Homo sapiens: one gene and its partners. The protein of the gene in region 2 purifies or fractionates together with the protein of the main gene of each other region. This does not show direct contact. Each region holds a gene or a part of one and is shown on either strand. Other genes may lie near its edges.

Region 1 (3,500 bases), on a different chromosome or scaffold from region 2:
ATGAACCCCACTTGCAGAGCAGCATAGGCAGCTTTAATTCTAGAAACTCCCTTCTTTCTTACCAGGTAAATCAGGAAAAAAGGTCCCTGTGGACCAGAGTTGGGGGACTGGGGGTGGGAGGAATGCTAGAGAGAAAACAGGCAAAAAAAAGAATCTCTTAATTCAATGTATGAATCCAAATAAGTCACAACTTAACCTTAGCCATGAATGTGTGGCATATACCCATACGTACCAGCCTAGCAAAGACTTTGAAAACCAAAATGAGATTTGAACTCTAATGTGACCCAAACCAAAGCAGCAAAAGCTTGGAGAACTGAAATAAGATTGGAAACACCTGCAGAAGTCTCAGACCAGCCCCTAAGCTATTCATGTTTGGGACAGCTCAAATCAACATAGCAAAGACATAAAGAACAGAACCGAGATTTTAACAAATGCCTCCAAAAGCAAGACAGAAGTTTTGGCCTGAACCTGAAGCAGGGTGGCCTGCTAAAACAGAAACGGCAACATTCCCCAGAAGAATTATAATAGGACCCAAAATCTACACAAAAAGTATTCACAATGATGAGGATAAATTCCAAAATTATGCAACACATAAAGAACCAGGAAAATGTGAGCAATTTTCAAAGGAACAAATGACCAAAACATGCCAGCCACAAGGTGATCCAGATTTTGGGACTATCAAATACTGTCAACAAAAAAGAAATACTTTCTTATAAAGAAAACACACAAGAAATGAAGGAAAAGGTGGGAATCATCAGCAGAAAAAGAAACCATAAAAAAGAACCAAATGAAATCTTAGAACTGAAAAATACAACATCTGAAATAAAAACTCATCAGATAGGTTCAGTAATAGAATGGAGATGACAGAGGAAAGAGTCTGTGAACTTGAAGACCGTTCAATAGAAATGACCCAGTCTCCACCGGGCACAGTGGCTCACGCCTGTAATCCAGCACTTTGGGAGGCCGAGGCAGGCGGATCACAAGGTCAGGAGTTCGAGACCAGCCTGATCAGCATAGTGAAACCCCGTCTCTACTAAAAATACAAAAGAATTAGCCAGGCCTGGTGGTGGGTGCCTGTAATCTCAGCTACTCGGCAGGCTGAGGCAGGAGAATCGCTTGAACCTGGGAGGCGGAGGCTGCAATGAGCAGAGATCGCGCCGCTGCAGTGAGCAGAGATCGCACCACTGCACTCCAGCCTGGGCGACAGTGCGAGACTCCATCTCAAAAAAAAAAAAAAAGAAAAGAAAAGAAAAAAAACCAGTCTGAAGAACAAAGAGAAAAAAAGATTGAAAAACATTCAACAAAACCCTAATACCAAACGTTTTAACTTAAGTGTAGTTGTAATCCCAGAGGGAGAGGCGAAAGATACTAATGCAGCTCTCGCTCTCCCTCTCCCCGCTCTCCTCCCTCTCCCTTCTTCGGTCTCCCTCTGTTGCCAAGGCTGGACCATACTGCCGTGATCTCACCTAGCTACAACCTCCCTACCTCGGGCTCCCCTGATTCTCCTGCCTGGGCCTGCCCAATGCCTGGGATTGCAGGCACGCGCCGCCACGCCTGACTGGTTTTTGTATTTTTGGTGGAGACGGGGTTTCGCCGTGTTGACCAGGCTGGTCTCCAGCTCCTGACCTCGAGTGATCTGCTCGCCTCCGCCTCCCGAGGTGCTGGGATTGCAGACGGAGTCTTGCTCACTCAATGCTCAATGTTGCCCAGGCTGGAGTGCAGTGGCGTGATCTCGGCTCGCTACAACCTCCACCTCCCAGCCGCCTGCCTTGGCCTCCCAAAGTGCTAAGACTACAGCCTCTGCCCGGCCGCCACCCCATCTAGGAAGTGAGGAGCGTCTCTGCCTGGCTGCCCATCATCTGGGATGGGAGGAGACCCTCTGCCCGGCCGCCCCGTCTGGGAAGTGAGGAGCGCCTCTGCCCGGCCGCCACCCCGTCTAGGAAGTGAGGAGCGTCTCTGCCTGGCCGCCCATCATCTGGGATGTGACCAGCGCCTCTGCCCGGCCGCCCTGTCTGGGAAGTGAGGAGCGCCTCTGCCCGGCCGCCCTGTCTGGGAGGTGAGGAGCACCTCTGCCCGGCCGCCACCCCGTCTGGGAGGTGAGGAGCGTCTCTGCCCAGCCGCCACCCCGTCTGGGAGGTGAGGAGCGTCTCTGCCCGGCCGCCACCCCTTCTGGGAGGTGAGGAGCGCCTCCGCCCGGCCGCCACCCCGTTTAGGAGGTGAGGAGCGCCTCTGCCCGGCTGCCACCCCGTCTGCGAACTGAGGAGTGCCTCTGCCCGGCCACCACCCCGTCTGGGATGTGAGGAGCGCCTCTGCCCGGCCGCCCTGTCCGGGAGGTGAGGAGTGCCTCTGCCTGGCCGCCCCATCTGGGATGTGAGGAGCGCCTCTGCCCGGCCGCCACCCTGTCTGGGAAGTGAGGAGCACCTCTGACTGGCCGCTGTGCAATCTTCCAAGTGTGAAGTGACAGCCTTTCTGCAGGTGTACCCAACAGCTCCGAAGAGACAGTGACCATTGAGAATGGGCCATGATGATGATGGCGGTTTTGTCGAAAAGAAAAGGGGGAAATGTGGAGAAAAGAAAGAGAGATCAGATTGTTACTGTGTCTGTGTAGAAAGAAGTAGACATAGGAGACTCCATTTTGTTCTGTACTAAGAAAAATTCTTCTGCCTTGGGATGCTGTTGATCTATAACCTTACCCCCAACCCTGTGCTCTCTGAAACATGTGCTGTGTCAACTCAGGGTTAAATGGAAAAAAAAAAAAAGAAAGAAAGAAAGATACTAAGGCAGAAAAATACATTTGAAAAAAAAAAGGTGGAAAATCCCCCACGTTTGGTCAGATATAAATTTACAGATTCAAGGAGCTCAACAAACACCAAATAGGATAACTCAAAGAAAAACATACCAAGATACATCTTTTTGTTTTGTTTTGAAACACAGTCTTGTTCTGTTCTCCAGGCCAGAGTGCAGTGGCACATGGCTCACTGCAGCTTGGACCTCTCTGGCTCAAGTGATCCTCTCACCTCACCATACCCGAGTAGCTGGAACCACAGGTGCACACCATCATACCCACTAAATTTTTGTGTTTTTTCATAGAGACAGGGTCTTGCTATGTTGCCCAGGCTGGTCCAAAGCACTTTTTTTTTTTTTTTTTTTGAGACAAGGTCTCACTCTGTCACTCAGGCTGGAGTGTAGTGGCTCAAGCACAGCCTCCACCTCCCAGGCTTAAACAATCCTCCCACCTCAGCCTCCTGAGTAGCTGAGACCACAAGTGTGTGCCACGGTACCCAGCTCATTCTTTTGTGTGTGTGTGTGTGTGTGTGTGTGTGTGTGTGTGTGTGTGTGTGTGTGTAGAGACAGGGTCTCACTTTGTTGTCCAGGCTGGTATCAAACTCCTGGGCTCAAGCAATCTTCCTACCTCAGCCTCCCAAACTGCTGGGATTACAGGCATGAGCCACGGTACCCAACCAAGACACATCTTAACGAAACTATTCAGCCAGGAAGGG
Region 2 (3,500 bases):
AAGCTTAAGGGAGCCCATAGCAGGAGTAGCTATCCAGATTGGGTGGGGAAGAAAAGGCTTTCTGAAAGAATGAGTCTAAGCATTTTGTAACCTTCTAATTTTTATGTCAGTTTTTTCATCTATAATATACTTTACAATGGCTGAGTAGTGTTTTATAATATGTAACTACCAGAGTTTAATCAGTCCCCTGTTATTAGACATTTAGGAGCATTCCCTGTTGTGTCGTTTTAAATAATACTGTAATGGATATCTTTATATAATCTTCAATTATTTTCTTAGATAACTTTTACTTGGAAGTGGAATTTCTGGGTCTGAGGATTAGAAATATTTTTTAAGACTTTTAACATGTATCATGAAATTGCCCTTCAGAAAGTTGTACCAGTTTATACTTCCAGCAGTAGTAGTTGAGAATGACCAGAAACCGCAGACTTTGCCAACTTGATAGGAAAAAATGATATCTCATGGCTTACTTTGCCTTTGTTGATTTACCTGTATGTATCATAGTAATTCATAGGCTGACAGCAAAATATGCCTAGCTTAAATTTAAATTTTATGATGATAACTGAACAAAAGAATCTATGTTGTTACATAGATTTCAGAATCATCATATTTAGCTATCGTATAATGTTTCATACCATTGCTATATCATGATTTATTTAACCATTCTCTGTTTTTTGGATGTGTGAATTATTTCTGATTTTTCTCCATTATCAGTAATATACTGCTTTGAAAAATGGATACCTTCAATTTTATTCTTTTCTTCAATCCAGAATATTATTATATTTAAGATCTCTGTCTCATTTGTTTTCTAAACACGTAAGTTGTAATAGCAAATTCAGAGAAATTGAGGATAGGCTATTTAATGAGATCAAGTACCTTAAGAAGCTTGTATGTTGACACTAGTCCTAGCAACTAACTTCTTTTTAATTATTGTGGCCAGAAACACCAGATGAAAATGGTAAAACCCAGAGAGCCGATGATTTTGTCTTGAAGAAAATAAAGAAGAAAAAGAAAAAGAAACACCGAGAAGACATGCGAGGAAGACGCCTTAAAATGTACAATAAGGAAGTACAAACCGTCTGTGCTGGCCTGACCCGCATCAGTAAAGAAATTCTCACCCAAGGACAAATAAATAGCACTTCAGGACTTAATAAGGAGTCCTTCAGGTATCTGAAAGATGAACAGCTGTGCCGATTAAATTTGGGTATGCAAGAATATCGGGTACCCCAGGGAGTACAAACACCTTTTATGACTCACCAGGAACATTCTATTCGTAGAAATTTCTTAAAAACAGGTACTAAATTTAGCAACTTTATTCATGAGGAACACCAGTCCAATGGTGGTGCTCTTGTCCTTCATGCTTACATGGATGAACTCTCATTTTTGTCTCCAATGGAGATGGAGAGATTTTCTGAGGAGTTTCTTGCTTTGACATTCAGTGAAAATGAGAAAAATGCTGCTTACTATGCTTTAGCAATAGTGCATGGAGCGGCTGCTTATCTCCCAGACTTCTTGGACTACTTTGCTTTTAATTTCCCCAACACTCCAGTGAAAATGGAAATTCTGGGCAAGAAAGATATTGAAACAACCACCATTTCAAATTTTCACACTCAGGTAAGATAAAAATTGTTGTTAAAAATTAGTAAATACGATTCTAAACAGAATTAACCTCTTTCTGTCGCACAGCACATACCAGCACATTTTTGATAACAAATTTATGGTAATAAAGGTGCTTCAAATTGTTTGTCTCTTCCTCTAATTGAAAAATCTTAATTACTGAGTTCGGGTGGGGCTTCTTCTTTACTGGAGGGAATGCTTTATACATGTTATACATCATTACAAATCTTTATGGAAAACTAGCTTGAAAACTTACCTGGTCTTTCACAAATCGGGTAATGTTAGTATGGAGGATGTGATTGAGATCTGTTAGTCTCAGGATAACTTTAGTTAAGATTTGCTTTTATATCATAATAAAACACGTGAGGGCATGGGCCTGTTTATATGCCAGGTTTTTGGAGTTTTTATATCTCTTTCAGTAACTTGTTGGCAGTCCATCCCAGAAATATACCCCATTTATGTGACTTGGAAGTGTCATTAGGAAGACCGCCATAGCCTCTGCTCCTTCTGCCTATACATTGTTGTAGGTGAAGACATTTTTTGAAGCCTTGCATGGGCAGCTAGGCTTAAGTCAGCAGGGAAACGTCTGCTTCTTAACCAGTGGTTTTAACCAAACATTTTTTTCAGTGAAGTTATTTTAGGGAATAAGAAGTTAATAATGTGTCCTAGTTTTTTTCTTACTTGCTTTTCTCGTAAGAATTGAATATAAATGGTCAGCTATAAGTTTCTGCAGTATATATTATAAATTCAACTTTAGTGGAGACTTTCACTTTTTAAACTTTTATGATTATATGTTCTGTTTTTTCAGGTTGTCTAGTAATTTGCTGCCATTCTTTTCCCTTAATATATATATATTTTTTTAGGTAAATAGATTGTTGCCGTAATAAGACTCTCAGCTGCCTGAATTATAGTGGTTTCAAGCCACTTAGATTTATTTGAAACCTCCTCTAACTTGAATCTTTTTAGTGAGTCTTACCATCTTTGCCTCCAATGAGGGGAGTATCCAGTTTAGATTTATGAGCTTCAGAATTTCTCTAATTGAAGTTCTCTCTGCAGTAGAGAGAGCAGGAGCAGCCAATGTGGAGAGGTCGCAAGATGGGGCTGCCCAAGATGTTGGAACACCATGTGCAATAAAGGGCTTCGTCTTGGATTTTGGCCTTATTACCACAACCAGGTACCGAAGTGCTGACTTTTGTAGTAGATTTTCTTTTTTCATTTTCATTTTTTTTTTAAGTTTTGCCCTTTGAAGGTCAAGGAATCCTATTTTTATAAATATTGCAGATGAGACTGAAAACATTTCTCCTAATATAGTCCATAATCCCCATAAGTTCCCTATTTAACAAGGAAAGATATTGCTGAGAGCAGAATCAACATGCTCTATCATTTTTTTAGTTTAGAAAAATGCAGCAAATTTTCTCTTTTGATAGACCAACAAGCATTTCTGAGAAATAAGCCAGAAATTTGGGGGAAAACTGTCCCAGTTTTGTAAGGGTGTCTTTTTAACATTCATATTAGTTAAAGTGGATCAAATTTGTATGTCAACAGACAGTATCCAGTCTAAATAGTTAATAAAAGAAAATATCTTGAAATATTCCCTGCTGATTTTTGTCCTCCAATTAATTTTTTAAAATGGAGCTGAAATTTAAATGACTGTACCAACAACTTACCTTGATACTTACTTTGAGATTTAAAAAATAACCACTTTTTAAGAACATTTCAGATTATGATTAAATTAGATATTAAACGCTTCAACCACATAAGAATATTGAGGACTGTTGAATGAGTCCTGTGCTCTGGTGGTCCTGGAACTTAATTTTATTTATGAATTTTCAGTCATTAGAGAAGAGTATGGTGTGGATATGGGAGGTTGGATTAGCCGACTA
Region 3 (3,258 bases), on a different chromosome or scaffold from region 2:
GACACTCGTAGGGCCTCTCTCCGGTGTGCGTTCTCTTGTGTGCGATGAGGTGGCAGCTCCGGCCGTAAGCCTTCCCGCACTGATCACACTTGTAAGGCCTCTCGCCAGTGTGAACTCGCATGTGGATTTTCAGGGCCGAGAGGGTCCGGAATGCATTTCCACACTGACTGCAGTCAAAGGGCTTCTCTTTGAGGTGAGTTCTTGCGTGGCTCCTAAGGGCTGAAGGGTCGTTGAAGGCTTTCCCGCAGTCGCTGCACTCGTAAGGCTTCTCCCCGGTGTGGATTCTCCTGTGCCGTGTGAGGGACGCGCTCGTGGTGAAGGCTTTTTGGCACTGATGACATTCATGCATTTTTCTCCCGTCGTACATGCTCATGTGCTGAGTGAGGTGCGGCCTGCCCTTGAACGCTACCCCATAGTCGCGGCGGTGATAGGGCCTCTTGCCAGCGTGCCTTCCCATTGGCTGAGTGAGATGAGGGTCCATGCCAAAGACTTCGAACAAGTGAGCGTATTCAGTGGACTTCTCTCCAAGACCGGCTCTTTCCTGTTGGTTAAGACGTAAGTGCTGACAAAGGCAATTCTCATATTCATTGCAACCCTAAGCGTCATCCCCACATACACTGCTATGAACAGATAGAAGCACATTACTATGACTAGAGCTGTAACCATCTGCCGTGCAAACGTGCTGTCCCTGCCCCATTTGAGCTCCATCAAGGACAATAGGTGAATGCCAGGCCACAAGGCTCCACATGTGTTACTTTTTCAAAGCTTTTTGCATATAGCATTTCTTCACTGCTTAAAACTGAATTGAGGCTGGGCAAGGTGGCTCACGCCTGTCATCCCAGCACTCTGGAAGGCCAAGGCGGGTGGACCACCTGAGGTCAGGAGTTCGAGACCAGCCTGGCTAACATGGTGAAACGCTGTCTCTACTAAAAATACAAAAATTAGCTGGGCATGGTGGTGCACACCTGTAATCCCAGCTACTCGGGAGGGTGGGACAGGAGAATCACTTGAGCCTGAAAGGTGGAGGCTGCAGTGAGCTGAGATCGTGCCATTGCACTCCAGCCTGGGTGACAAGAGCAAGACTGTGCCTCAAAAAAAAAAACAAAAAACAAAAACAACAACAAAAACAAACAAACAAAAACCACTGAATTGAGGCTGGGCATGGTGGCTCAAGCCTATAATCCCAGCACTTTGGGAGACCGAGGCTGATGGATCTCCAGGAGTTCAAGACCAGCCTGGGCAACATGGTGAAATCCTGTCTCTGCAAAAAATAGAAAAATCAGCCAAGTGTGGTGGCACACGCCTATAGTCCCAGCTGCTCAGGAGGCTGAGGTGGGAGGATGGCTTGAGCCTGGGAGGCAGAGGTTGCAGTGAGCCAAGATGTTGCCCACTGCACTGGGCAACAAGAGCAAGACTGTCTGCCCCCCAAAAAATAAACACCACCAAAACTAAATTGATAAGTAAGTGTACAGCATAAATATAAAATAAAACAAAAACTGCATTGAGCCCCAACACTCAATATCTGAGACACAGCTATAAAAATCTTCACTCAGAGACACTCTAGGTAAAGTAGCTTGAGGTTAGCTTTAGGGTTGTCTCCATCTTGGTAATACCCAGTGTCTCTGAAACACAGTCTCCTCTGAGGGAAGCTGCTTGCCCTGGTGTTGAACTGCTTTTCTAACCTAGGCTGCCCCAGTCTCCTCAGACGTGGAAGGAAGATCCAGAATTATCCCACGGAAATCTTACCATCGTCACACCACTGGGCGTTTCCTTCCCAAAAATATCTTCCATAAGAAGTGACCACTTGGTTTTAGATGGAGTCTCCCAATCTGAAACAAATTGGAAAAGTATTAATTGTTGGAAAAGGAAAATGGTGGGATGATGGTGACAATGACAGGTGGATTTCTTGGCAGATCCTAAGGCTATGTAAGGAAAAGTGGTGCAAAAGCAATTGTTAAAAAATCTGGTCATGTGAGATATTTGGCAATGCCAGGGGTAGAAATTTAAGTCAATTCAGGCCTGGTGCAGTGGCTCACGCCTGTAATCCCAGCACTCTGGGAGGCCGAGGTGGGTGGATCACCTGAGGTCAGGTGTTCGAGACCAGCCTGGACAACATGGTGAAACCCATGTCTACTAATAATACTAAAATTAGGTAGGCATGGCGGCATCATGCCTGTAGTCCCAGCTACTTGGGAGGCAGAGGTTGCAGTGAGCCGAGATCATGCCACTGCACTCCAGCCTGGCAACAGAGTGAGACTCCGTCAAAAAAAAAAAAAAAAAAAAAAAAAAAAGAAAAAAGAAATTTAAGGCAATTCAGATGATGTTGATAATGACAGAAAGCGGATGATCAGAAACATCAAATATGAAAGAATGGGACAAAGAGCCCAATAATGGGAATGTGAAAGTCAAAGATGAAGGAGTGTGTGGACCAAAAGATTTGTCAGAGAATGGATGGGCAAAAAGAGGGAAGGAGCATCTCTCAATTTCCCTGGGTGACACTCCCTAACCTACCTCCCTCCACCCCAGTCACTGAATAGAGGTAGAGTCACAGCACCGCTCTTTGCCTGGGGCTCGCTCACCTGCACAAGCGCCCTGGTGAGCGCCCCTCTCCTCTGTCCTCGGCTCCTCCTCCTGCTCCAAGTGTGAGATGAGGCTGGGTTTGCCGACCTGATACCCTACACTCACGGGAAAGACACAGGTTGAGGGAGGGCCATGCAGAGGACAACCCCTTCCAGTAGCCTGGGCTCAACACTTGGGTCTTCAGTGTTCTGAGGGTGGACAAGTCTGACTTAGGAGCAGCAAAATGGTGGTGCCAAAATTTCTAAGGAACACAGTAAAAGTTTTTGACTGATAGAAAACAAAACCACAGGCAAAGCATGGTGGCTCGTGCCTGTAGCCAGGAGTTCAAGATCAGTCTGGGCAACATAGTGAGAACCCTTCATCACCAAAAATAAAAAAAAAAAAAAAAAAAAAGAAATAGGAAATAAGATCACAAGTACCCACACACTGACCCTCCAAAAGAATGGGGATTTCGTATTTCAGAAGCCCATGCCAAGCTCAGACACACACCGGAGAACCACCATGGTCCCTGCAATAGATGGGCCTCGATACCCAGGAGAGGCCCCATTAAGCATGGGTGCTGGGGCTGCTTGTTCACAGCTGCGTTCTGAACCGCTGCATAGTTCCTGGGTCACAGAACATACTCAAACAAAAACATCTAATTCATGGATGAATAAGTGGAGAAATGGCACTGGCCTT
Region 4 (3,500 bases), on a different chromosome or scaffold from region 2:
TGAACTGAACAATAGTGACACAACCCATCAAAACCTCTGGGATACAGCAAAAGCGGCACTACATTTAGTAAGTTCACAGCATTAAATGTCTACATCAAAAAGTCTGAAAGAGCATAAACAGACAATCTAAGCTCACACCTCAAGGAACTAGAGAAACAAGAACAAATCAAACTCAAACCCAGCAGAAGAAAAGAAATAACAAATATCAGAGCAGAACTAAATAAAACTGAAGCAAACACTACAAAAGATAAATGAAACAAAAAGCTGGTTCTGTGGAAAAATAAAGAAAATCGGTAGACCATTAGCAAGATTAACCAAAAAAAGAAGAGAGAAGATCTGAATAAGCTCAATTAGAGACGAAATGGGAGATACTACAACCGATACCACAGAAATACAAAAGATCATTCAAGGCTACTATGAACACCTTTATGCACAAAAACTAGAAAACCTAGAGAAAAATGGATAAATTCCTGGAAATATACAACCCTTCTAGATTAAACCAGAAAGAAATGGAAACTCTGAACAGACCAATAACAAGTAGCACGACTGAAACAGTAATAAAAAAACTGCCAACAAAACAAAGTCCAGGACCAGATGGATTCACAGCTGAATTCTATCAGACATTCAAAGAACTGGTACCAATCCTACTGAAACTATTCCAAAAGATAGGGAAAGAGGGAATCCTCCCTAAATCATTCAATGAAGCCAATATCGCCCTAATTCCAAAATCAGGAAATGACATAACAAAAGAAAACTAGAGACCAATATTCCTCATGCACACAGATGCAAAAACCCTCAACAAAATACTAGCTAACCAACTCCAACAGCATATCAAAAAGATAATACACCATGATCAAGTGGGTTTCTTGCCAGGGATATAGGGCTGGTTTAACATACGCAAGTCAATAAATATGATATACCACATAAACAATTAAAAACAAAAATCATATGATCATCTCAATAGACGCAGAAAAAGCATTTGACAAAATCAAGCATCCTTTATGATTTAAACCCTCAGCAAAACTGGCATACAAGGGACGTACCTTAAAAGTAATGAAAGCCATCTATGATAAACCCATAGCCAACATTATACTGAACAGGGAAAAGTTGAAAGCATTCCCCCTGAGAACTGGAACAAGACAAGGATGCCCACTTTCACCACTTCTATTCAACATAGTACTGGAAATCCTAGCCAGTGCAACTGGACAAGAGAAAGAAAGGGCATTCAAATCAGTAAAGAGGAAGTCAAACTGTCACTATTCACCGATGATATGATAGCATACCTAGAAAACCCTAAAGACTCATCCAAAAAGATCCTAGATCTGATAAATAAATCCAGCAAAGTTTCAGGATACAAAATCAATGTGCGCAAACCAGTAGCATTGCTATACACCAACAGCAACCAAGCTGAGAATCAAATCAATTACTCTACCCCCCTTACAACACCTGCCAAAAAAAAAAAAAATAATAATACTTAGGAATACACCTAATCAAGGAGGTGAAAGATCTCTAAAAGGAAAACTACAAAACACTGCTGAAAGAAACCACAGACACACACAAATGGAAACGCATCCCATGTTCATGGATGGGTAGAATCGATATTGTGAAAATGACCATACTGCCAAAAGCAATCTATAAATTTAATGTAATTCCCATCAAAATGCCATCATCATTCTTCACAGAACTAGGAAAAAAAATCCTGAAATTCATATGGAACAAAATAAGAGCCTGCATAGCCAAGCAAGACTAAACAAAAAGAACAAATCTAGAGGCATCTCATTACCTGACTTCAAACTATACTACTAGGCTATTGTTACCAAAATAGCATGGTACTTGTACAAAAACAGGCACGTAGACCAATGGAACAGAATAGAGAACCCAGAAATAAAGCCAAATACTTACAACCATCTGATCTTTGACAAAGTAAACAAAAACAAAGTGGGGAAAGGACACCCTATTGAACCATTGGTGCTGGGATAACTGGCAAGCCACATGTAGGAGAATTAAACTGGATCCTCATTTCTCACCTTATGCAGAAAACTCAAGATGGATCGAAGACTTAAAGATAAGACCTGAAACTGTAAAAATTCTAGAATATAACATTGGAAAAACTCTTCTAGACATTGGCTTAAGTAGAGTTCATGACCAAGAACCTAAATGCAAATGCAACAAAAACAAATAGATGGGACTTAATTAAGCTAAAAAGCGTCTGCATAGCAAAATAAATAATCAGCAGAGTAAATAGACAACCCATAGAGTGGGAGAAAATCTTCGTAAACTATGCATCTGAGAAAGGACTAATGTCCAGAATCTATAAGGAACTCAAAAAAGTCAGCAAGAAAAAAACAATCCCATCAAAAAGTGTGTTAAGGATATGAACAGACAATTCTCAAAAGATATACAAATGGTCAAGAAACATATGAAGAAATGCTCAACATCCCTGATTATCAGGGAAATGCAAATCAAAGCCACAGTGCAATACCACCTTACTCCTGCAAGAATGGCCGTAATTTAAAAATAAAAAAAATTTCAGATGTTGGCATGGATGTGGTAATAAGGGAACACTTCTACATTGCTGGTGGGAATGTAAACTAGTACAACCACTATGGTAAACAGTATGGAGAGTCCTTAAAGAACTGAAAGTAGAACTATCATTTGATCTAGCAATCCCACCACTGGGTACTACCCAGAGGAAAATAAGTCATTATATAAAAAAGACAAACACACAGATTTATAGTAGCACAATCTGCAATTGCAAAAATATGGAACCAACCTAAATGCCCATCAACTAATGAGTGGATAAAGAAAATGTGGTATACATATACCATGGAATGCTACTCATCCATAAAAAGGAGAGAAATAATGGCATTCGCAGCAACCTGAATACAGCTGGAGACCATTATTCTAAGCGAAGTAATTCAGGAATGGAAAACCAAACATTCTATGTTCTCAGTTATAAATGGGAGCTAAGCAATGAGGATGCAAAGGCTTAAGAATGATATAATGGACTCTGGGGACTTGGGGGGAAGAGTGGGAGGCAGTGGGGGATAAGAGTACACATTGGGTGCAGTGTACTGCTTGAGTGATGGGTGCACCAAAATCTCAGAAATCACTACTAAAGAACTTACCTATGTAACCAAACACCCTACCTGTTCCCCAAAAACAACTGAAATAATGATAACAAATTTTTAAAAAGTGAATGAAAAGATGATCCAGAGATATCTGAATGCGAGAAACAATTCAAAATGTGGAAAATAATTTCCACTTAACATCTTTCTTAAAAAGAACCCCCCCCACCCCTGAATTTTATTAATCAAATTTAGGAGAGTTCATTTCCCAAAATGATAATGACACCTTTCACATGGACACTGCTTTTAAAAGATATTAAATGTATTTTCTTACCTTGAAATGAGCCAGCAAAGTCAAAATCATCTGTACCTTTTCTCTTGCTTTTCTTAGTACTGACTTTGGAGTGGACTTCAAGTTCTGTTACACGAAAA
Region 5 (3,500 bases), on a different chromosome or scaffold from region 2:
GAGACGGAGTCTCGCTGTGTTGCCCAGGCTGGAGTGCAGTGGTGTGATCTCGGCTTAGTGCAACCTCTGCCTGCCAGGTTCAAGTGATTCTCCTGCCTCACCCTCCTGAGTAGCTGGGATTACAGGTGCCCACCATCACATCCAGCTAAATTTTTTTTTTTGTATTTTTAGTAGAGACAGGGTTTTATCATGTTGGACAGGCTGGTCTTGAACTCCTGACTTCTGGTGATCCGTCCACCTCATCCTCCCAAAGTGTTGGGATTATAAGTGTGAGCTGCCACACCCGGCCTAGTTTGCACATTTCTGTTCTTAATTCTTGCTGTTATTCTGTGGTGAGAAGAATTCAGGGAAAAGGGGTCAGGTCTGATGGATCCCTTATTTTGGGCCCCTTCCCTTGCCCCTCACTTTCCCGGATCTCTCTCTTGACTTCATGGAGCTTGCTAAAGTTTCCCGAAGGACAAAGGAACAGTGGTCAGTGTTGAGACCCCATACCAACTCCTGTTCTTTCCCCAGCTGGACGAGTTCTATATTGGACAGATTCCACTGAAGGAAGTGACTTTTGCAAGGCTGAATGACAACGTGCGGGAGACCTTCCTGAAGGATATGTGCCGTAAGTACGGTGAGGTGGAAGAGGTAGAGATCCTCCTTCACCCCCGTACGCGCAAGCACCTGGGCCTGGCCCGTGTGCTCTTCACCAGCACTCGGGGCGCCAAGGAAACGGTCAAAAACCTCCACCTTACCTCCGTCATGGGCAACATCATCCATGCCCAGCTTGACATCAAAGGTGAGGACTCCTCTGCCTGCCACTCAGGCTTGGCCTCCAGCGGAGGTTGTACATGCAAATGCCTGTCAGGGTCAGGCAGGCGCCCAGGGTCATGATCTGAAACTGCTGGGGCCAGTTGTGTTTCTGAAATCAGATCAGATTTTAGAGTGGAATTATGGTACATGGATTTTTGTGTGTGTGGTGTCTCCAGCAAGGTCGGGCAATAGGCCATAATCAAGCACATAACTATCTGTAAAAAAAAAAAAAAATCATATGAAGGGTTGTACTAGGTAAGATGAATAGATTGTAGTAAATCAGCCCAGGTCAGGTTGGTTGCTTGGTTGGTTTTTGAGACAGGATCCTGCTCTGTCACCTAGGCTGGAGAGCAGTGGCGTGATCTTTCCTCACTGCAGCCTCCAGCTCCTGGGCTCAGCCACCCCAGCCTCCTGAGTAGCTGGGATTATGGGCATGCACCACCACACCTGGCCAAAGTTTTTTTGATTATTTGCAGAGATGAAGTCTCACTACACTGCCCAGCCTGTTTTTAATTTTTTTTTTTTTTTTTTGAGATGGAATCTCAATCTGTCGCCCAGGCTGGAGTGCAGTGGCACGATCTTGGCTCACTGCAACCTCCACCTCCCAGGTTCAAGTGATTCTTCTGCCTCAGCCTCTTGAGTAGCTAGGATTACATTTATGCGCCACTACGCCCGGCTAATTTTTGTATTTTTAGTAGAGATAGGGTTTCACCCTGTTAGCCAGGCTGGTCTTGAACTCCTGACCTCAAGTGATCTGCCTGCCTCGGCCTCCCAAAGTACTGGTATTACAGGCATGAGCCACCATGCCTGGCCTCTTTTTAATCTTTCTATATGCTATTCTATAACCCATATAGGTTTTGGTGCCAGATTCTCAGAAATACTGGATTTTCTGGGTTTTTAGGTTTGGAAATTTGAGATAGAGAGTAAAGGAGCTGTGAACACAAGCGAGGTGGTCTGGGCTTCTGTGTTGAGTGATGGGGAGCAGTGGGGTCTGTGGCGAGCTGCAGATTGCAGTATTGTCTGGAGGAGGCAGCCATTAGTAGGCACTGGCCAGTTTGCAAGTGGAAATGAGGTTTAACATTCTTGAATTTGGTTTGTAAAAGAAAGCCAGGGCCGGGCATGCGGTGGCTCACGCCTGTAATCCCAAGACTCTGAGAGGCCAAGGTGGGCAGATCACCTGAGGACAGGAGCTCGAGACCAGCCTGGTCAACATGGTGAAACCCCATTTCTATTAAAAATAACAAAAATCCGGACGTGGTGGTTCATGCTTATAATCCCAGCTACTCGAGAGGCTGAGGCATGAGAATCACTTGAACCTGGGAGGTGGAGATTACATCGTGCCACTGCACTCAAGCCAGAAATTTGGGTTTTTGTGTGAAATCTCATGGTTTTTAAATACCATGTTTCTTTCCTCACAAGGTGTTTCTGAGGTGTTCACTCCACAGCTCCTGCAGGCTCCGTTAGTCCCCCGGTTGCTGTTCTGCATGCTTTAGTTTACAGGATAAAGAGCATGGGGTGATCGAGCCTCTGGGTTTGAATTCCAATTTTTCCAATGACCAATTCTGTGACTTTGTGTAGGTCGCTTTTAAGCCTCTAGAACAGAGGTACTGATGCTTCCCTTCTGGTGATCCAACATGGTAAAATAAGTAGAAGTGTTTTTGATAAATCGTGAAGTGTCATAAAATATGTTGTTTGTGGTAGTTTAGAGGTAGAGATAAGGTAGAAGGTCCCAAAGGTAGAGTTATGGTAGGAGAACTGAAATCCTGAAACCCAGATTCCAAGAAATTGTAGGAAACTTGAGGCCTGAGAAAGCAGGAATACCAGATCAGGAAGGAGTTAGTATCTCCATCTGACAATTGGTTCCCATTTCCCTCCCTCCAGGACAACAACGAATGAAATACTATGAACTAATTGTCAATGGCTCCTACACCCCTCAGACTGTGCCCACTGGGGGCAAGGCCCTGAGTGAGAAGTTCCAAGGCTCGGGTGCAGCCACTGAGACGGTGAGAAGTTTGTGGCTACCACAGCCCCTAGCCATGTGGGCATGGTGTCCGGGTGCCCGGAGCAGGAGCAGTCTTCGGGAGGTTCCGGGCTTTCCCGTTAAACAAAGAAGAGCCAAGCAAAGCTGCTGAGATGCTTTCAAAAGACAGGGAACTAGGGGCCAGGCACAGTGGCTCACGCCTGTAATCCCAGCACTTTGGGAGGCCGAGGCGGGTGGATCATGAGGTCAGGTGATTGAAACCATCCTGACTAACACGGTGAAACCCCATCTCTACTAAAACTGCAAAAAATTAGCCAGGCATGGTGGTGGGCGCCTGTAGTCCTAGCTACTTGGGAGGCTGAGGCAGGAGAATGGCATGAACCCGGGAGGCGGAGCTTGCAGTGAGCCGAGATCACGCCACTGGACTCCAGCCTGGGCAATAGAGCGAGACTCCGTCTCAAAAAAAAAAAAAGGGAACTAGGATTCCTGGTTTGGGAAAGGGCAGGTCTCAAGTGGTGTTTGAGCCCATTCCTCTCTCCTTGCCCTGCTCTGTCGCTCTAGGCCGAATCCCGCCGCCGCTCTTCCTCTGACACAGCTGCCTACCCAGCAGGCACCACTGCGGTGGGCACTCCTGGCAACGGCACCCCCTGCTCCCAGGACACAAGCTTCTCCAGCAGCCGACAAGATACCCCATCTTCCTTTGGCCAGTTCACACCTCAGT
Region 6 (3,500 bases), on a different chromosome or scaffold from region 2:
TTTCCCAGCGAGCAGAGATGCTACAGAAGCTGAGTGAAGTCCAGGCTTCCGAAGCTGAGATGAGACTCTTTTATACCACTTCCAAGCTAGGCACTGGGAACCGCATGTATCACACCAAAGAGTGAGTTGGCCAGTCCTTTGCTAACCCTGCCCTCCCTCCAGGGCCCCCTAGGGAGGGCGCACAGGTTATGGGGTCCTCTGGGGGTGGAACATTTGAGAAAATACCTTTATGGTGGCCTGAGTGGCTGAAAATTCATTGTCATCCTAAATGCCTCTAGTGGGTAAAGGCCACAGATGCTGCTGAACCTTCTGCGACACACAGGACAGCAAAGTTTCTCGCTCCAGTGATGTCGGTGTTTTCCTGTGGTGTAGAGTCCCTTGTTACAGCTCTTCCAGCTTTTGTGCAGCTGATTAGGCCAGAAATTGCCATTAGGTGGTCAAGGGCTGGATTTGGCCCATCAGCGGGTTTGGTTTGGTTTGTGTCGTGTTTTTTTTTGTTTTTTTTTTTTGAGACAGAGTCTTGCTTTGTCACCCAGGCTGGAGTGCAATGGCGTGATCTCAGCTTACCGCAACCTCCACCTCCCAGGTTCAAGCGATTCTCCTGCCTCAGCCTCCCAAGTAGCTGGGATTACAGGCATGCACCACCAAGCCCGGCTAATTTTGTATTTTTAGTAGAGACGGGGTTTCTCCATGTTGGTCAGGCTGGTCTCGAACTCCCAACCTTGGGTGATCTGCCCGCCTCGGCCTCCCAAAGTGCTGGGATTACAGGCGTGAGCCACCGCGCCCGACTGGTTTGTGTCGTTTTTTAAGGCATGAGTGCTGTTTGCCAATATGTTAGCTTCCTGGCGCTGCCATAACAAATTACTGCAAACAGCGGTGGCTTAGAACAACCAAGCCAGAAGGGTGCCGTGGCTCATACCTGTAATCCTAGCACTTTGGGAGGCCGAGGCGGGTGGATCACCTGAGGTCAGGAGTTTGAGACTAGCATGGCCAACATGGTGAAACCCTGTCTCCACTAAAAATACAAAAATTAGCTGGGCATGGTGGCTCATGCCTGTGGTCTCAGCTACTCTGGCGGCTGAGGTGGGAGGATCACCTGAGCCTGGGAGGTTGAAGCTACAGTGAGCCGTGATTGCACCACTGCACTCCGTCCTGGGCGACAAGGTGAATTCATGTTCCCACCTAGTCTCGACTAGTTGGACGATCCGGCCACACCAGCAGTGTCCCCACCAAGCTGCTGACCCTTAAATGGCCTGTGTGCCCCTCCCACCCAGTCCCACCCCACTCTGTGGTCTCCTCAGCCTGTGCTGCTCATTTACATGAGGCCTGACTGGTGCCTGTGAGCACTGTCAGTTAGTGACTGTTTATCGAGTGCAGAGACTGTCCCAGGCTCTCTGCTAGGCCCTGGGGATAGAGCAGTGCACAGAAATAAAGTCCTTTCTCTTAAGGAGCTTCCCAGTGTCATGGCGGGAGATGTAATCGTGGGAAGTCATCAGGCGAGTGCATCTGTGTCCCACGCTGGGAAGCACTGAGCAGAAAATGAAGCAGGGAAGAGCGAGGTGGAGGGAGAAGGGTGAGATGTGGGGTCTGTGTGTGGTCAGGGAGTCTCCCTGACAGCTAGTGCTTAAGCAGAGGCTTAAGTGGAGTGAGAGGAGGTATCTGCAGGAAGGGCATTTCAGGGAGTGGAACAGCAGGTGCAAAGTCCCTGAGGCAGAAAGGGGTATGGCCTTGGAGTCCTGACCTCTGGGATTGAGGTGGGGCCTCTGTGCCTGAAGTCTCTGCTATCTCAACAGGAAGGCTGACGAGGTGGTAGCCCCGGGCCAGGAGAAGATCAGTAGCCTCAGCGGTGCCCACCGGAAGCGTCGCCGCTGGCCCTCAGCTGAGGAGGAGGAGGAGGAGGAGGAGGAGTCGGAATCGGAGCTGGAGGAGGAGTCGGAGCTGGACGAGGACCCAGCTGCTGAGCCGGCTGAGGCTGGTGTGGGGACCACCGTGGCACCTCTGCCGCCAGCTCCAGCACCCAGCAGTCAGCCCGTGCCGGCTGGGATGACTGTTCCTCCTCCTCCAGCTGCAGCCCCACCACTGCCCAGGGCCCTGGCTAAGCCCGCCGTCTTCATCCCCGTGAACCGCTCCCCGGAAATGCAGGTTCGCCACCCCGTGTTTGTGATTAAGAATCTAGGTTAGCGGGCAAGGGGCGCACAGAGGGCGTCCTGGTGAAGTGGGGCAAGGGCATCCCTTCTCTGTGCCTCCATGTCCCCATCTGGGAAAGGGGAGAGTGACTGCGCCTCCCTTGAGGCTGTGGCAGGGATTGGTGCGCGAGGAGGATCACAGTGCAGGGCGGGTGTCTGGCGGCACGCCTGGCAGGCTCGGGGCCCTGGAGGTCGGCGGCAGTAGCTTCATCGCCACTGCCCTCTGACCAGCGGGCCTGGCCTGGGCTGCCCCGATCCAGACAAGAGTTTGGGCTGTGAATCAGTTGACCCGAAATCAAGTGCTGATTCCCCTGCTCTCCAGCTCACTTCCCGCGCATCTGTAAAATGGGAATATTCCGGCTACTGAAGGGGCTCCCCCTCTCTGTGCCTGTTTCCTTCCTGGTACAATGAGTGTCTCACTGGGTTGTGATGACAATGAAAGGATTTGGGGCATGGAAAGCCCACAGCCCACGTAGGAACTCTGGATCCCTAGAGGAGTAATGTTGGCCGTTGAATGGAATTGGGATCCTGCTTCTAAGTACATTTTTCTGCTTTTATAAGTCTTCATCAGGGTAAGCTGACCGCTCTAGCAAATGACCCCAAAGTGCCAGTGGCTTCACACCACAAACGTTTGCTTCTAGGTGATGTCATCACCCAGTGCCATCTGGTGGCAAGGAGGGTGTGGGGTTCTGCTCCGCGCGGTCACTCAGGGGCTTGGCCTCCTCCATCCCGTGTCCCTGCCATCCCTTGGGACTTCAGTTCCTGCTTTTCTTTGTGAATTTTTCCCTATTCGTATCCTGTCCATATTCCTAAGCAATACATACCGTAGGTTTGCCTGTATTTAAAAGTGGCATCATGTCCTTTACGTTATTCCAGTTTGCTTTTTTGTTACTCAGCATTATATCTTGGGATACATCCATGTTGATGCAGGCAGCTGAGGCTCATTTACTTTTTCCCCACTGCTATCGAGTATTCACGGTGTGAATATAGCGCAGGATGAGTATTCTGTTGCTGGATAGTTGGTTGTTTTAGCTTTTTGCTGTTATCTTCACTGCTGTTTTTGTTGTTTGTTCGTTTGAAACAGGGTCTCACTCTGTCACCCAGGCTAAAGTGCAGAGGTTTGATCTCAGCTGACTGCAACCTCCGCCTCCGAGGCTCAAGTGACCCTCCTGCCTCACCCTCCCAAAGAGCCTGGGACTGTGGGCACACGCTACTACGCTTGGCTAACTTTGTATTTTTTTTGTAGAGACGGGGTTTTGCCATGTTGCCCAGGCTGGTCTTGAACTCCCAAGCTCAGGCAACTCCCAAACTCAG
Region 7 (3,500 bases), on a different chromosome or scaffold from region 2:
GTAAAGTGCGATCAAAAAAGGAAGGTGGTATTATTCTTATTATTTCCACGTGGACTGGAAGGGAGAACCCTGAACTAGATGCATTCAAATTCAGCTTTATCTCCAGCCTTCTCTGAATGTGTGCTGACTCACTGTCAGCTGCAGGAGCCATTTACACCCCCAAACATAAAACCCAGAGACAGAAGATTTACATGTACCTCTTTAAGTAGTAGCTAAAAAGAGAGTAGGGGCTTACTGTCAAAAAATGGCCACTTTTAATCCAGTATACATTTATGATTTAAGAGCCTACATTATAAACATAATCATATTAAGTATAAATCACATGTGTTTGTAAGCATGTTAGGTATACTAGGGATTTAAAAATCTGCATTTATAGGAAAATTATGTAATAATACATTTTCAACTCCTGGTTATTATCAGGAGTCTGTTTAAAAATCTAAAACTCCATTGATGTTAAGCATTGCAAGGTGAATAAATCTGGCCTTGAATAATAATATGAGGGAAAACGTGTATTTACAGAGATTTACCCTTACCTGCTCATATGGGTGATACTGATGAAAGAAAATTCAAAACCAAAATCTGCTGAACATTTCAATAGAACATTTCTATGTTGAAATTATGTGCATAATTTCTACCACTAGAAGCAAATACTTCATGTGTGAACTAAGGTGAATCTGAAATTTTCAGTCAACGAGTAATGAGCTCTGCACAAACTTGGCAGAAGACAGAACTGTGGCGAAGGGATTAGAAGGACAAAGGACAGAAATACCCATTTGTTGCCTTTCTCCCCTCCTCTCCTCCCAACACCCTAAGCTCTCATTTCCTTCTTGGCAGGAGTCCATTCCCAATCTAAACGTGAACCGAAAACCAGGGCATTTGGAAATGAATGGCAAGGATTTAAAAATTGGGCAGAAATACAAAATTGAACCGGGGATATTGGCAAAGGAAATTTTTAAATGCCCTTGATTAGGGGAAAAGTATGTATAAATTAAATGAAGGGAAAGGCCAGGCTTTGCAGACGAGGGTACCTTCTGGAGCTGACTCGAGGGCTTCTCAGCAACAACAGCCTTCCAGCATCCCCGGGGCCCCTTCCACTTGCGGATGTTGGGCAGGGTCGGCTGGTTTAGCTCCGTGCAGAACTGCAAAGACAGAGCACAGGTCAGAAGCGTGGGTTCGCGCCTAAAGCAGTCCCGGCTGGCGGCGGCCTGAGAAGCCAGGCACTGCATGATTCTGAGTCATCAGCCTTATTCAGACACTGCTGAACTACATCCCTGTTTTTCAAACACTAGGGTTTGCAAGAGCCAGATGACTAAACAAGCACCACACATTAAAAAGAAAACTGCCTGTGTGTGAAACACCAAATTATCACCTGGGGACTCTCAGTTCACAGAAATTGATTCTCTCTGTAGCATTCCTGCCCAAACAGTTCAAAAAAAGTCATCAGAATCCTTTTCATCCTTGTAAAAGCAGCGGATTGAAGGTCCCAGGAGGATCTGGATCAGCGTCAAATCCAAAAAGGTAACAAGATGGATACATGGTGACTTTCTTCTTCAGGGCTCAGCTTACAGGGGCAAAAAATGACCTCCAGCTTCAACTTGAACCACCGTAGTGCTTGTCTTGTTTACCTCTTGCTGCGGAGAGCTGCTGCTGCACCCACACACGTGCACGCGGCATGCACTTCTTTTGCTAATGCATGTTGCACCAATATGGCTGTAAAGTGACTGTCACTGAGGCAAAATAAAATTGCACACAGTAGGATGAGGAGTGGAACAACTATCCACTTCAAAATATGGAGACCAGCTCCTCTAACTCATGCCTCAAACACAACCCCTTCTCTTGGGGTCATGCCCCCTTGTCCTTCACAAGCCTTGGAGCACTCCACTTGTTTATTTCTCTAACCACCCCTACGAGTGAGAGCCTCTTGGCTTCCAAGCACATCACCACTCTCTCCGCTTAAGGACTCTCATTCAGCCCCACTGAGGCAGCTTACACCCCTATCCAGAAGACCCCAGCATCTGTACCCGTCGCCAGCTGCTCTCCTGAGTTTTAAAAGCATTTCCCACTGCCTCCTTAGCATCTCCACCTGGAGGTCTCCTTAGCCCCTCACAGCAGCAGGTCCCAAAGGGAACACATTATTCCTTCCTCCACCCAGTGCCCATCTTGGTCCAAAGCACTTCCATCCTTCCCGCTGCTCGAACTCCTTCCTCGCCTCCCACCAGCGCACTGATTCCACTGTCGCATGTGTCTTGGGTGCTTCCTTTCTGTTCTCCAGCCCCACTGCTGGAGCCTGTTTCAGAGTCCTGTCTTCTCTCACGGGGGTCACTGGCATAGCTTCTAAGAAGTCCGTCACTGGACCCACCCTGCAGCTATTCACTAAGTTCACTGTCATGGCCATGCTGATGCACCTCTCTGCGGTCCTCAAAGTGTGGTCTAGGGACCAGTAGCCACAGAATCACCTGAGAACGTGCTAGAAATCCTAGACCTACTGGATCAGCAGCTCTGAAGTGGGCCCAGCAATCTGTGCCTGAACAAACCCACTGGAAGATTCTGATGCACGCTTGGGTTTGAGAGCTGCTGTGGCCGCCCAGGTCCTCCCTCAGCCTCTGCCCCAGATCCTGGCGGTGTGTGAGCAGCCACCCTCTCAGCAGAGCCTCCCAACGCCTCTGCTGCAGAAAGCCACTCTCATGCCCCCTGGGCAGCCCACATACAATGGTTGGGAGAGGCCAGGGTCTAAAGGTCTGGTCTTTCCCCTCACATTGCTTTATTTGTAAGAGGGAAGATGAAGCACCAGTACTTCATTACTGAGTACTGAGCTAGTCATTTCTAGAGGGACAAGCGCTGTGGGGAAGATGAAACCAGGCAAGGGGAGGGAGAGTGCTGGGAGGTCTACTTTAGAAATGGGCTATTCTAGGAGTGACGCTGCTTTTACAGTTAGTCATGTAAGCATCTATCTTTCTCCAGCAGTGGACTCCACAGGGCAGGGACTGTACCTGAGCCTCCTTTATAAACCCCTACCTGGCACAGAGCACAGCACCCAGTGATGCTCTGAAACATCTGCTGGTGAAGCAGAAAACTCAAGGCAAGACTGCAGTCTTCAAATCTGTGCATGACAGCATGACAAACAAAGCAGGGGCAGGGAAGGGGGTCGGGGATGCGGGGGAGTCGGGGTGGTGGGAATTTCTCCTTAGGCTATTATCCAAGTAGTTGCCTCCATTGTAACCTGACTCTTTGCATACAGATATGTTCTCTGCTGCTGAGTTTGTCTGGGAAGCATTCTCTCTGGAATTTGCTCAACCATGACTTTTATAGGTTCTACTTTCAACACAGCCCAGAGCAGAGTGGCTGTGGAGAGAGTCACTGCTGACAGGGGCGAGGGAGTGGGGAAGGCGGAGAGGGTGGGGTTTTACCCTGGATAAGTCCCCCTGGCCAGATGCTCCTGGCTGGAAGCCATCCTCAGATGGGAAATAAAACACTTTGGAAGATGCAGCCAGAATTTATCG

Evidence for each region.
Region 1: the proteins of RSBN1 (region 2) and ZNF512 purify together in Homo sapiens (affinity purification with mass spectrometry; 2 studies listed by BioGRID and IntAct, with this or other methods). This does not show direct contact.
Region 3: the proteins of RSBN1 (region 2) and ZNF317 purify together in Homo sapiens (affinity purification with mass spectrometry; 2 studies listed by BioGRID and IntAct, with this or other methods). This does not show direct contact.
Region 4: the proteins of RSBN1 (region 2) and CEBPZ purify together in Homo sapiens (affinity purification with mass spectrometry; 2 studies listed by BioGRID and IntAct, with this or other methods). This does not show direct contact.
Region 5: the proteins of RSBN1 (region 2) and SETD1A purify together in Homo sapiens (affinity purification with mass spectrometry; 2 studies listed by BioGRID and IntAct, with this or other methods). This does not show direct contact.
Region 6: the proteins of RSBN1 (region 2) and DHX37 purify together in Homo sapiens (affinity purification with mass spectrometry; one large-scale study listed by BioGRID and IntAct). This does not show direct contact.
Region 7: the proteins of RSBN1 (region 2) and EEPD1 purify together in Homo sapiens (affinity purification with mass spectrometry; 2 studies listed by BioGRID and IntAct, with this or other methods). This does not show direct contact.

Annotation. Positions count from the first base shown.
Region 1 is NC_000002.12:27,593,042-27,596,541, reverse strand, and holds part of ZNF512 (zinc finger protein 512), read right to left. Parts: intron 1-3,500. UniProt on the Homo sapiens protein: May be involved in transcriptional regulation.
Region 2 is NC_000001.11:113,795,477-113,798,976, reverse strand, and holds part of RSBN1 (lysine-specific demethylase 9), read left to right. Parts: intron 1-940; coding exon 941-1,614; intron 1,615-2,673; coding exon of another isoform or gene 2,674-2,676; exon of another isoform or gene 2,677-3,500. UniProt on the Homo sapiens protein: Histone demethylase that specifically demethylates dimethylated 'Lys-20' of histone H4 (H4K20me2), thereby modulating chromosome architecture.
Region 3 is NC_000019.10:9,157,397-9,160,654, reverse strand, and holds part of ZNF317 (zinc finger protein 317), read right to left. Parts: intron 2,822-3,258; exon of another isoform or gene 2,676-2,821; coding exon 2,580-2,675; intron 1,830-2,579; coding exon 1,747-1,829; intron 542-1,746; coding exon 1-541. UniProt on the Homo sapiens protein: May function as a transcription factor. May play an important role in erythroid maturation and lymphoid proliferation.
Region 4 is NC_000002.12:37,207,597-37,211,096, forward strand, and holds part of CEBPZ (CCAAT/enhancer-binding protein zeta), read right to left. Parts: exon of another isoform or gene 3,487-3,500; coding exon 3,403-3,486; exon of another isoform or gene 1-3,402. UniProt on the Homo sapiens protein: Stimulates transcription from the HSP70 promoter.
Region 5 is NC_000016.10:30,960,754-30,964,253, forward strand, and holds part of SETD1A (histone-lysine N-methyltransferase SETD1A), read left to right. Parts: intron 1-513; coding exon 514-784; intron 785-2,679; coding exon 2,680-2,801; intron 2,802-3,340; coding exon 3,341-3,500. UniProt on the Homo sapiens protein: Histone methyltransferase that catalyzes methyl group transfer from S-adenosyl-L-methionine to the epsilon-amino group of 'Lys-4' of histone H3 (H3K4) via a non-processive mechanism.
Region 6 is NC_000012.12:124,979,132-124,982,631, reverse strand, and holds part of DHX37 (probable ATP-dependent RNA helicase DHX37), read left to right. Parts: intron 1-8; coding exon 9-121; intron 122-1,793; coding exon 1,794-2,142; intron 2,143-3,500. UniProt on the Homo sapiens protein: ATP-binding RNA helicase that plays a role in maturation of the small ribosomal subunit in ribosome biogenesis. Required for the release of the U3 snoRNP from pre-ribosomal particles.
Region 7 is NC_000007.14:36,278,754-36,282,253, reverse strand, and holds part of EEPD1 (endonuclease/exonuclease/phosphatase family domain-containing protein 1), read right to left. Parts: intron 1,140-3,500; coding exon 1,029-1,139; intron 1-1,028.